Regions from separate parts of the Homo sapiens genome. Here region 1 is linked to region 2. Evidence: fine-mapped expression QTL. A gene starts in region 2. The other region holds a variant in brackets. All regions are shown on one strand. Distances are from middle to middle. Region 1 overlaps DIDO1 (death inducer-obliterator 1). Region 2 holds the start of GID8 (GID complex subunit 8 homolog).

The links. PIP is the estimated chance that this variant, and not a neighbour inherited with it, causes the effect. A credible set is the group of variants that fine-mapping cannot tell apart.
Region 1: its variant is the best candidate, but not a certain one, in a credible set for the expression of GID8 in tibial nerve (GTEx, PIP 0.68).

Annotation. Positions count from the first base shown.
Region 1 is chr20:62,893,774-62,898,155 of GRCh38, forward strand. It overlaps DIDO1 (death inducer-obliterator 1), which reads right to left. Exons shown (of 16, transcript NM_001193369.2): 7 at 2,758-3,223; 8 at 2,460-2,619; 9 at 1,276-1,392; 10 at 1,037-1,141; 11 at 640-775; 12 at 1-421. Among named protein-coding and RNA genes, the nearest start is that of SNORA117, 13 kb to the left of the region's middle. The variant T/C (reference allele first, on the strand shown) is at 2,355.
Region 2 is chr20:62,935,829-62,940,210 of GRCh38, forward strand. GID8 (GID complex subunit 8 homolog) reads left to right here and starts at 2,319. Exons shown (of 5, transcript NM_017896.3): 1 at 2,319-2,425. It also overlaps a transcript of DIDO1 not described here. RefSeq lists silencers at 1,520-1,569, 1,840-1,889, 2,260-2,489, 2,560-2,689 and an enhancer at 2,385-3,053.

The sequences.
Region 1 (4,382 bases), 42 kb before region 2:
ACATCCTGTCTGGCTTCCACCATGTGGGTGCTGTCTGGGCGGGATGCTGCGGAGGCCACGGCTGTGCATGAACTGCTTGGAGCGGTCCTGGGGTCCCGGCCGGACACTGTGACGGTGGTGACCACCCCGCTCCCACAGGAGGCTGGGCAGGGGGACAGGTCTTCCAGCGGGGAGGGCTCGGGATGGCCATCTCCTGGAGGCCCAGGGAAATACGTTCTGTCCACATTTGGATGAGAAGCACTTTCTAGGCCTGGCTCAGAGGCAACTTCAGGCACAGCCTCCGGCATCACCTCATCAGCTGAATCCGGAGCTGGGTCAGGTGCAGAGCTGTCATGCTTTGATTTTAAGTCTTCTTTCTTAACAGAAGCTGACAATTTTTGTTTTTTCGGAGCTGGCTCATCTTCTGCGGAGGGAACCTGGCCTGAAGAAGGCGAGGAAAGGCTCTGTGAGAAACCCAGCCGGCACACTGGTGTTTCTCACACAAAGCCGAAAGCAATACTCTAAAGGCAGGGCAGGAAATCATTCTGGCCCTTCTGCGTGTTTAAGCTTACGTGCGGTTGCTTTTAGGAGGTTCAGTGATTTTTAACAAAATCAAGTTTAGTCTCAGCTCCAAGGCTCCATCCCCTGCACTGTGCTCACCTGTGCAAATTTTACAGTTGAGATCGAAGAGGTGTGCGCGGTGCTGACTGGTGGTGTCTTTCAACATGCTGCTGAAGACGTCGAGAAGCGGCGCTGTGCTCTTCTCAGGGACAGCACGTGCTGACTCTTGCTGTTCCTAAAAAAGAAAAAGAAAAAAAAGTGAGGTCGTTTCTTCTCCAAACTCAGCTCCAAATTAACCACACACAAGAAAAGCAGTCTCATGGGATTGAGACCCACGGGGGAGAAAAAAGGACCATCTAATACAAGGACTGAGGAATGCCACAATGACATACACCTGCTGTAAGCTCAGGTCCTGCCCAATAATTTAAGATAACCTCAAAACATTTGGGATGGATTAGTCTATTCTCGGTGAACACAAAATCTCCCAAATGCTTACCTCTGAATCCGACACTGGCGGAGAGTCCTCCAGATCGGGGATGGCCTCCTGCCTGGGGGCCGTCTTCTTGCTTTCATTGTGCAGTTTAGTTCTGGACTCCATCACCTGAAATGAAAAAGACGAAACAGAGCTTAGGCCTTGTTTTCTAGGAGGAAAGCATCGCTTATGCAGCCGTCTATGAATTTATTTCTATTAAGCTCGAGTCCTGGGTGCCTCCGCAGGTACCCCTCAGCACTCACAGATCTCGCTGGCCTCTCTTTCCACGTGGAAAGCTCTTTAGATACAAGTTCTTCTGGCTTCAGTCTCACAAGTTTCGCCAAAGAGATTTCCTCACGCAGAACACGATGGAAGAGTCCCTATAAACAAGTATTTTTCATTTACTCAAATAATATTCCTATATCTGTCAATACAGAGAGCTTCTGGAAAACACAGCTGCCCAGAAGTTTAGCGGGCACAGGACAAAGGCCCTCAGGGCCCACTTGCGTGTGGCACTGGGCAGAGCCCTCCCTGCAGGGTGTGACCTAACTCCCCAAACGGCCTTATGAGAGTGCGCCCCAGGATATCCCTGCTGTGAGCAAATGGGAGCCCAGAGAGCACAGGTAATAAGGTTCAACAGTGGGTTTCACGGCCTGTGCTGCACTGGCTCTGCTAAAAAAAAAACAACACACAACACCTCAGGAAAAACAATTATGTACACAAGGTGGACACAAGTCAAAAAGGTAGCGTCAGGAACAAAGGAAGGAAGAAATCATTTCTGTTTAGGGCTGTTCAATGGTGAGATGCAAAGTCAGGGTATTTCATTATCCTAAAATTCTAAACAGGGAGGAGCCTGGAGGCCGATGGAGAGAGAACACCACAAGGCTGTCAGCCCGGCGGCCTATCCCTCCCAGCTGGAGTTTCTGTCCTCGTCGCATGGCCCATGCTGCAGTGAGGAAGGACTGATCCCACTACCTGGGCGTGAGCAGCCCCTGCTCCAAGTGGTGAGAACTCAAGCAGCCCAAACCATCAGGCTCACTCGGCTGATGAGGAATATGAGAAAATAAGGTGGAAAAGGCTGTCTGAGGCCGGAATACGGACACCCTCATACACTGGGATGAAGAACTGGACTTTATTTTGGAGCCCAGTGAAGCGACTGGCTTGTACCTTTACAGCAATGTTTACAGGAGACTAATGTGGTGATAAAAGGTGGACTTCAGGGAAGCCAGGAAGCGGACGCGACCCTAGTTAAGGCAGGGAAGGGAAGGGGTTTCCAGGACGCTCAACGCCAGTGCAACAATACGTGGGCGGCAGAAGGATCACAGAGGAGAAAGAAACGTCT[T/C]AGCTTTCCTGGAAAGGACACGAACATCTCAAAATATTGGTTGATCCCTTTAGCACCCAGCGAACAGAACAGGAATACTCCAATGCACCGACACCAGGCACACACCTGATTTTTAGGGTCCTTCAGGTTGAACATGATGCTGCGATATTTACTCTTGTAGCGATTATCTGTAACTTGAAACAAGTTAAACATCTCCTTCTCAATATGGAGGGCAATTTTTCCTACTTCGTTTTCTGTCATGATTAAGTCATCGCTGTCATTGACTCTGAACAGAATAAAAAAAAGGAACTACATAAGACACTTGTGTATATTAAACTTTTTGAACAGTGAGGCAATCCTGCAGCCACACTCTAATGAAAGCCCTTCCATTTTAATGGGTAAGAAATCAAGCAGAACAGCCCACCTTTTCCACAAAATCTCTTTTAAGGAGCGTCTGATATTTTGCCGAATTTGTGAATTTGGCTGCGATGGTGCAGCACTCATAGCCCCAAGGCGTCCTGGGGCTGGCGAGGCCATTGGAACAGAAGGTACCACTGGCTTCCTTACGGCTCCCACCAAAGCAGCGGAGCCAGGGAACTTCTTGGAGGCAGCCGTTGCCGCTGCAGGTGCCGGTCCGGCCTGCCTGGCAGCTGAAGCACCACTCGATGGGGTAGCGGAGAGCCATGGCCTCTTGGGGATGGTGCCCTTGAAACCTGAGGGTGGCTTTTTAATGGCTGGTGTGGCTGCTGCCACATTAGCAAAAGAAGACTTCTTTGGCACGAGGTTTCTAGGTGCAGGCTGCTTGCCCACCGCGGAGCCTGGAGGGGCTGTTTTCTTTGAGGCTGCCATGGCTGCCGCTTTCTCCTCGGACCTCCTGTCTTCCTTCGTGGCTACAAAGAAGAACACAGGCGCTGAGTAAGGGAGGACACCACAGGGTGCTGTCACCTGACTCTAAAAAGCAGACTTACCCTTAAACCTGTAAGTGCCCACCTGGCATTACTGAATAGGATACACATAGAGAAAAGGATTTGTAAAATGTTAGTGTTCAGAGGAGTGTAAGGGAGGACCGCCAGCAGCATTTATGACGGTGACTACATTTTATTTCAGAAAGAAGAATGCTTTATTATTCTATCTTTTACCTTCAACCAGCAAACTCTAGTTATTAAAGGCTTGACTTGCGCACTAGCTAAGCTTCAAAGCTGAAGGACAATTTCCTATCATCACTTTTTAAAAGGCAGATTTACAGCAGCACTATCATTATGAATTCAAGTGCAAACTGTTTGTAAACTTCAGTGAAAAAGACCGTTTAGAAGCGTAAAACAGGCTCTCTTAGCCCGGTGGGTGGGGTTTACACATCTCACTTCGTTGTCCTTCCAGACTGGAGTCCATTGGAGGCGATGCCATTAATAAAAATATGGAAAGCTGGCATACACCTGAACCACAGGAAGAGCAGCCACACCTTTACGTGAAGAGTGAGAAGCTGAGAACGCAGCAATGCTGTTACAGGAATGCGTCCATTCACAGCCCTCAGGCTGTAATTCCATTAAGTGAAGTATGAATCCAAACAAGGATTATAATTAAAAGCTCAAAGACATCAAACCCCCTCAACTTGCACAAAAAGCTTTCTATGTCAGTAGAGAATCAATCACCTTATAACCCCATGTGAGATCGTCAGAGCCCAAAGGCCCTCGAGCAGGGGACAGACGGCGTGCCAGGGGACAGATGGCCAGGGGACAGGGCTCGTTGAGGTGCACCGCATGCCGGGGCAGGGATCCAGCTAGTGGAGCAGAGTGAAACGCCTGGGGAATAGGGGGCCCCCATGAGGGCCCCAGGATGGCAGAGGCCATCTCAGCTCTACAGGCAAGTGCCTGGGAGCTACCTCGGGTGATCAAGTCAACAAGGCACCTCCTGAGGAAAGGCTTTTCCAACGATCGGTACAGCAGCAAGCCTCCAAAACTCCCAAAGGCCTAAATGGGAGAATGTGACAGATGCTCCCAAGAGCGCTTCAGTTCTACCCAGGGACTGAAAATCAAACCGCACTCCTCCCCC
Region 2 (4,382 bases):
CTCAACAGGAGTTACGGAGACATCCTGGCAATCCAAAAAGCAAAGATGATGGCTTCCACGTTATGGTGGAAGAGGCTGGGAAACAACACAAAGGAGCCAGTTTCTAGAGAGGATTAAGGAGGGGGCTCGAGCAGGACTTGGTAACCGGTTGGCTGTTGGGAGGAGGAGCATTAACCTGTGACCCACAGGCAGGCACTGAGACAGCCTCTTTGGACTGGAATGTTAAGGAATGTCGCCTTAAGGCGCTAGCACTCAAGCTTTCTGCTCGTGCATCCCCTTGCACACTTTCTCCTTGACGTTCAGGCTGGGCATGGTGGCTGACGCCTGTAAACCCAGCACTCCCAGAGGCCGAGGCGGGAGGATGGCTTGAGCCCAGGAGATCGAGACCAGCCTGGGCAAGAAGGCAAGACCCCGTCTCTAAAAAACTTTAAAAAATAAAAATAGGCCGGATGCGGTGGCTCATGACTGTAATCCGAGCACCTTGGGAGGCCGAGGTGGGTGATCATTTGAGGTCAGGAGTTCGAGACCAGCCTAGCCAACATGGTGAAACCCCACCCGTACTAAAAATACAAAATAAGTAGCCGGGCGTGGTGGCGGGTGCCTGTAGTTCCAGCTACTCGGGAGGCTGAGGCAGGAGAATCACTTGAACCCAGGAGGCGGAGGTTGCAGTGAGTCGAGATCATGACAGTGCACTCCAGCCTGGGCAACAAAGTGAGACTCCTTCTCAAAAAATAGAATAAAATAAAATCAAAATAGGCCGGGAGCGGTGGCTCACGCCTGTAATCCCAGCACTTTGGGAGTCCGAGGCGGGCGGATCACGAGGTCAAGACACTGAGACCAGCCTGACCAACAAGGGGAAACCCCGTCTCTACTAAAAATACAAAAATTAGCTGGGCGTGGTGGTGCGCCCCTGTGGTCCCAGCTACTCGGGAGGCTGAGGCAGGAGAATCGCTTGAACCCGGGAGGCGGAGGTTGCAGTGAGCCGAGATGGCGCCACTGCGCTCCAGCCTGGGCGAGAGTGAGACTTCGTCTCAAAATAAATAACTAAATAAAGACCAATAACTGTTTCCCATAGGGTTATGTAGTTGCAAATGAAAAAATTACTGGCATGTACTGCCTCTGCATATGAAGCATAATTTTGTCAAGACCTTATACCTGCAGATTTAGCTCTTTCGATTAACGGAAAATGTCCAAAATCAGTCTCCTCCAACCTATTTGCCGAACTGGACTTACTGTCGCTGAGTAGACCGACCGACATAGCTTACACGTTGTTCAGCTCGCTTGTAAGCAAACACACGAAACCACCTCACCCCTGACTTCAGAAAGAAGCCGTCCCGTGAATTCCTCACAGATGAAATCAGGAGCTGCCCCTCAAGGACTCTATTTCTTCCTTCGGCTCTATCAAATATTTTAAGGTACTTCCCAGCAACGGAAACATGGGACCCTGCAATGACAGACTTCGCATTCCTCCTGAGCGGACAGGCAATAAGCAAGTAAACGCGCAAATACCCAAGTGCGGCCTCAACCCGCGCTCCTGCCGGGAGGGTCTCCAGTCACCGAGTAACCCCGGCCCTGCCCCGCGCCGCCGCCGGGACTCCGCCCCGCAAGCAAGTGGGGTCTCCTTTGTCCCGCGCGCCCTGGCCGCGTCCCGCCCTTCGGCGTAGCCCATGGGAGGCGCCCTGAGGGCAGGGCCCTTCTGATTCCCCACCTGGCCTCGAGTGAGGACGCGCTCAACAACATCTCGAGTAAAGCGGGGGAACTCGCTTCAACGCGCAGACAGCACAGCTCTCGCCCAGCCCGGTCTCGGGTCAGCCGTCTCTCCCTGGACCTCAGGGACACTAGCCCTGGAAGGCCGCCGGTCGGGAGGGGACTCCCTCCCCGTCTGAGGGGCGGCCGCGGACACCCGGCGCCTTTCCCCCGCCCCACCCCGTGCGGCCTCACGCAAACGACAGGAAAAAAGCTGGGACCTTCGCCTCCGACTCAGTGTAGACGTCGCCATCCCGGTTCCAGATTTCCGCGCTCCAACGCCTCCGCAGCAGCCATCTTGCCAGAGGGCCGACGCCTTTTGACTCTGGCGCCAACCCGTAGTGCGTGGTCGCCGCGAGGGGAGTTCTGCGCAAGTACGGAAGCTGAGGTTCCGCGCTTCCGGGAGGCCGTCCGCCCCGCCCCCTCGCGGGGGCGCTTCATTGGTCATCGGCTCGCGCTCTCGCGCTCTCTTGCTGTCGCGAGAGGTGCTGAGGGGCGGCCTCCGGTGCGCCTGCCCTCCCGCTCCCCGCCCCCGCCCCCGCCCCCGCCTCCGCCGCGGCCCCCACCTCTGCCTCCTTCTACTCGGGCGCCCCGGCGGCCGCCACCTCTCCCCAGCCCAGGAGAGGCTGCGGAGCCGCAGCCGCCCAGACCGCGCAGCGCGGGAGGCAGGTTCCGCACGGTAAGATGGCGGCGGCGGGCCCGGGCGGCCGGGCCGAGCGTCTCCCGGGGCCGGGCCGGGCGGGCAGGCGGGATGTGGCCGGGGTGCGCGCCGCCCCCGCTCTGGGGGCCTTGGAAGCGCCGGCGCTGGCAGGTGCGGAATTGGGGCGCGCAGTGAGTCCAGGCCCGGACGGCCGCCCCGCGCCGGTGCCCAGGGGGCAGTCAGGGCTCAGCCTCCAGGCGCGCGGCCTCAGGCGCTGGTGTTCTGGGGCGGTCCCGGCCAGCCTGAGGGGCGGCGGTAGCTGTCTCTGTGGAGGAGCGACGTCCGTAACGAAGTCTTTTTAATAAAATCTGCTGCTTTAAAGCAGAAACCGAGCGGGTGAGGATGTAAAGTGTGGCATGGAAAGTAGGAGTCTTCAGCACACGGGTGTTTTCTTCTGCTGAATCTTTTTATGCTGGAGTTTGAGACTACCGAGTTCTTCCTGCTAACAGGACTGGCCAGTTCTACAAAGTTGTTGCTTTTCATGGGCGCACGTAACTGCCCGGAGTGGAAGCGCTGTGAGTGCCGATCACCGAATGGGCCGAGAGAAAAGGTGCCTTTTCCTAGGGAGCTCTTAACGTTGGTCCTAGGGCCGGGCGCGGTGGCGGAGGTCGAAGTGGGCGGATCACTTGAGCCCGCGAGTTCGAGACCAGCCGTGGCAACAGCGAGACTCCCTTCTCTGCTAAAAATAAAAAAATTAGCCAGGCAGAGTGGTGCGCTCCTGTTGTCCCAGTTACTCTGGAGGCTGAGGTGGGAGGATCGCTTGAGCCCAGGAGGTCGAGGCTGCGGTGAGCCATGATCGCGCCACTGCCCTCCAGCCTGGGCGACAGAGCGAGGCTCTGTCTCAAAAAAAAAAGAAAAAGAAAATGAGTCCTTAAGTTACCATTAATTGTCGTGAATAAAAAGTTGGTCTCAGTGAGTTTTGCAGTTGACAACGAAAGATGGGTGTTCGTGTGTGACAGCGACTCCTGGTTTCTCCTCCACTTTACCTGCCGCTCCACATCAAGTTTTCTTCTGCTGGTGCCACTTTCTCTGCTTTACCTTCAAGGTTGGCATCCTCCAAGTAATGGCGATTCTCATTCCCTATCTACGCTCTTCCTATGGTCTTTGCTGAATTCTTGGCTTTAAATATCCCTGTGCCCCAGCACCGCCCCCCCCGCCCCTTATTTCACTAATTCATGTTTTCAGCTCTGAGCTCAGGATCTGTAATTCAGACACCTGCTTGATTTCTCCAGACGCATGTCTAATAGTCACGTCAAACTTGCCCTGCTTCTCAAACCTGTTCTTCTTCCAGTCCTTCCTCCTTATTTGTGGCCCCATCTTGCAGGGCCTCTCATGCTTGAAACCTGTGACCATCTTCTATTCTTCCCTCTCTTTTGTCCGGTAATCTGTCTAGCAGCAGCCATTGACTCTGGCCAAAGCATCTTGATCTCACCTTGCTCTCCATCTCTTCTGCCGATGTTCTCTCTCGCTTGGGTGTCTCCCTAAGGGACTGGCTGCTCAGATCTCACCACCCTGCATTCATCCCATTTTCAGCCAAGAGACCAAAGTTTTTTAATTTATTGAAACACTTTAGCAGTACTTCGTATAAAGTAGTATGTGTAACGTATGTATCAGTGGCAAAAGAGAAAGACAGAGTGGACGGTGGCGTGCCCCTGCCTGTCTCAGGTATCCACCCATTCTCCCAAAGCCGGAACAGCTGCCTCTGGGGCTTCAGCCATTTGCCCCTCCCACAGGTAACCCCCTCCTGAGTGTCAGCTTTCATGCCCTTATTTAAAAAAAAACAAACAAAATAGGTTTGCCACGTACATATTTGTTGCTAAAGCACATGTCATGTATTTTGTCTTGTTGTTCCTGATAAAACTCACGGCAGATTTGGCCTCTCCTGCAACTCTCTTTTTCTTTTCTTTTTTTTCTTTTTTTTTTTTTTTGAGACGGA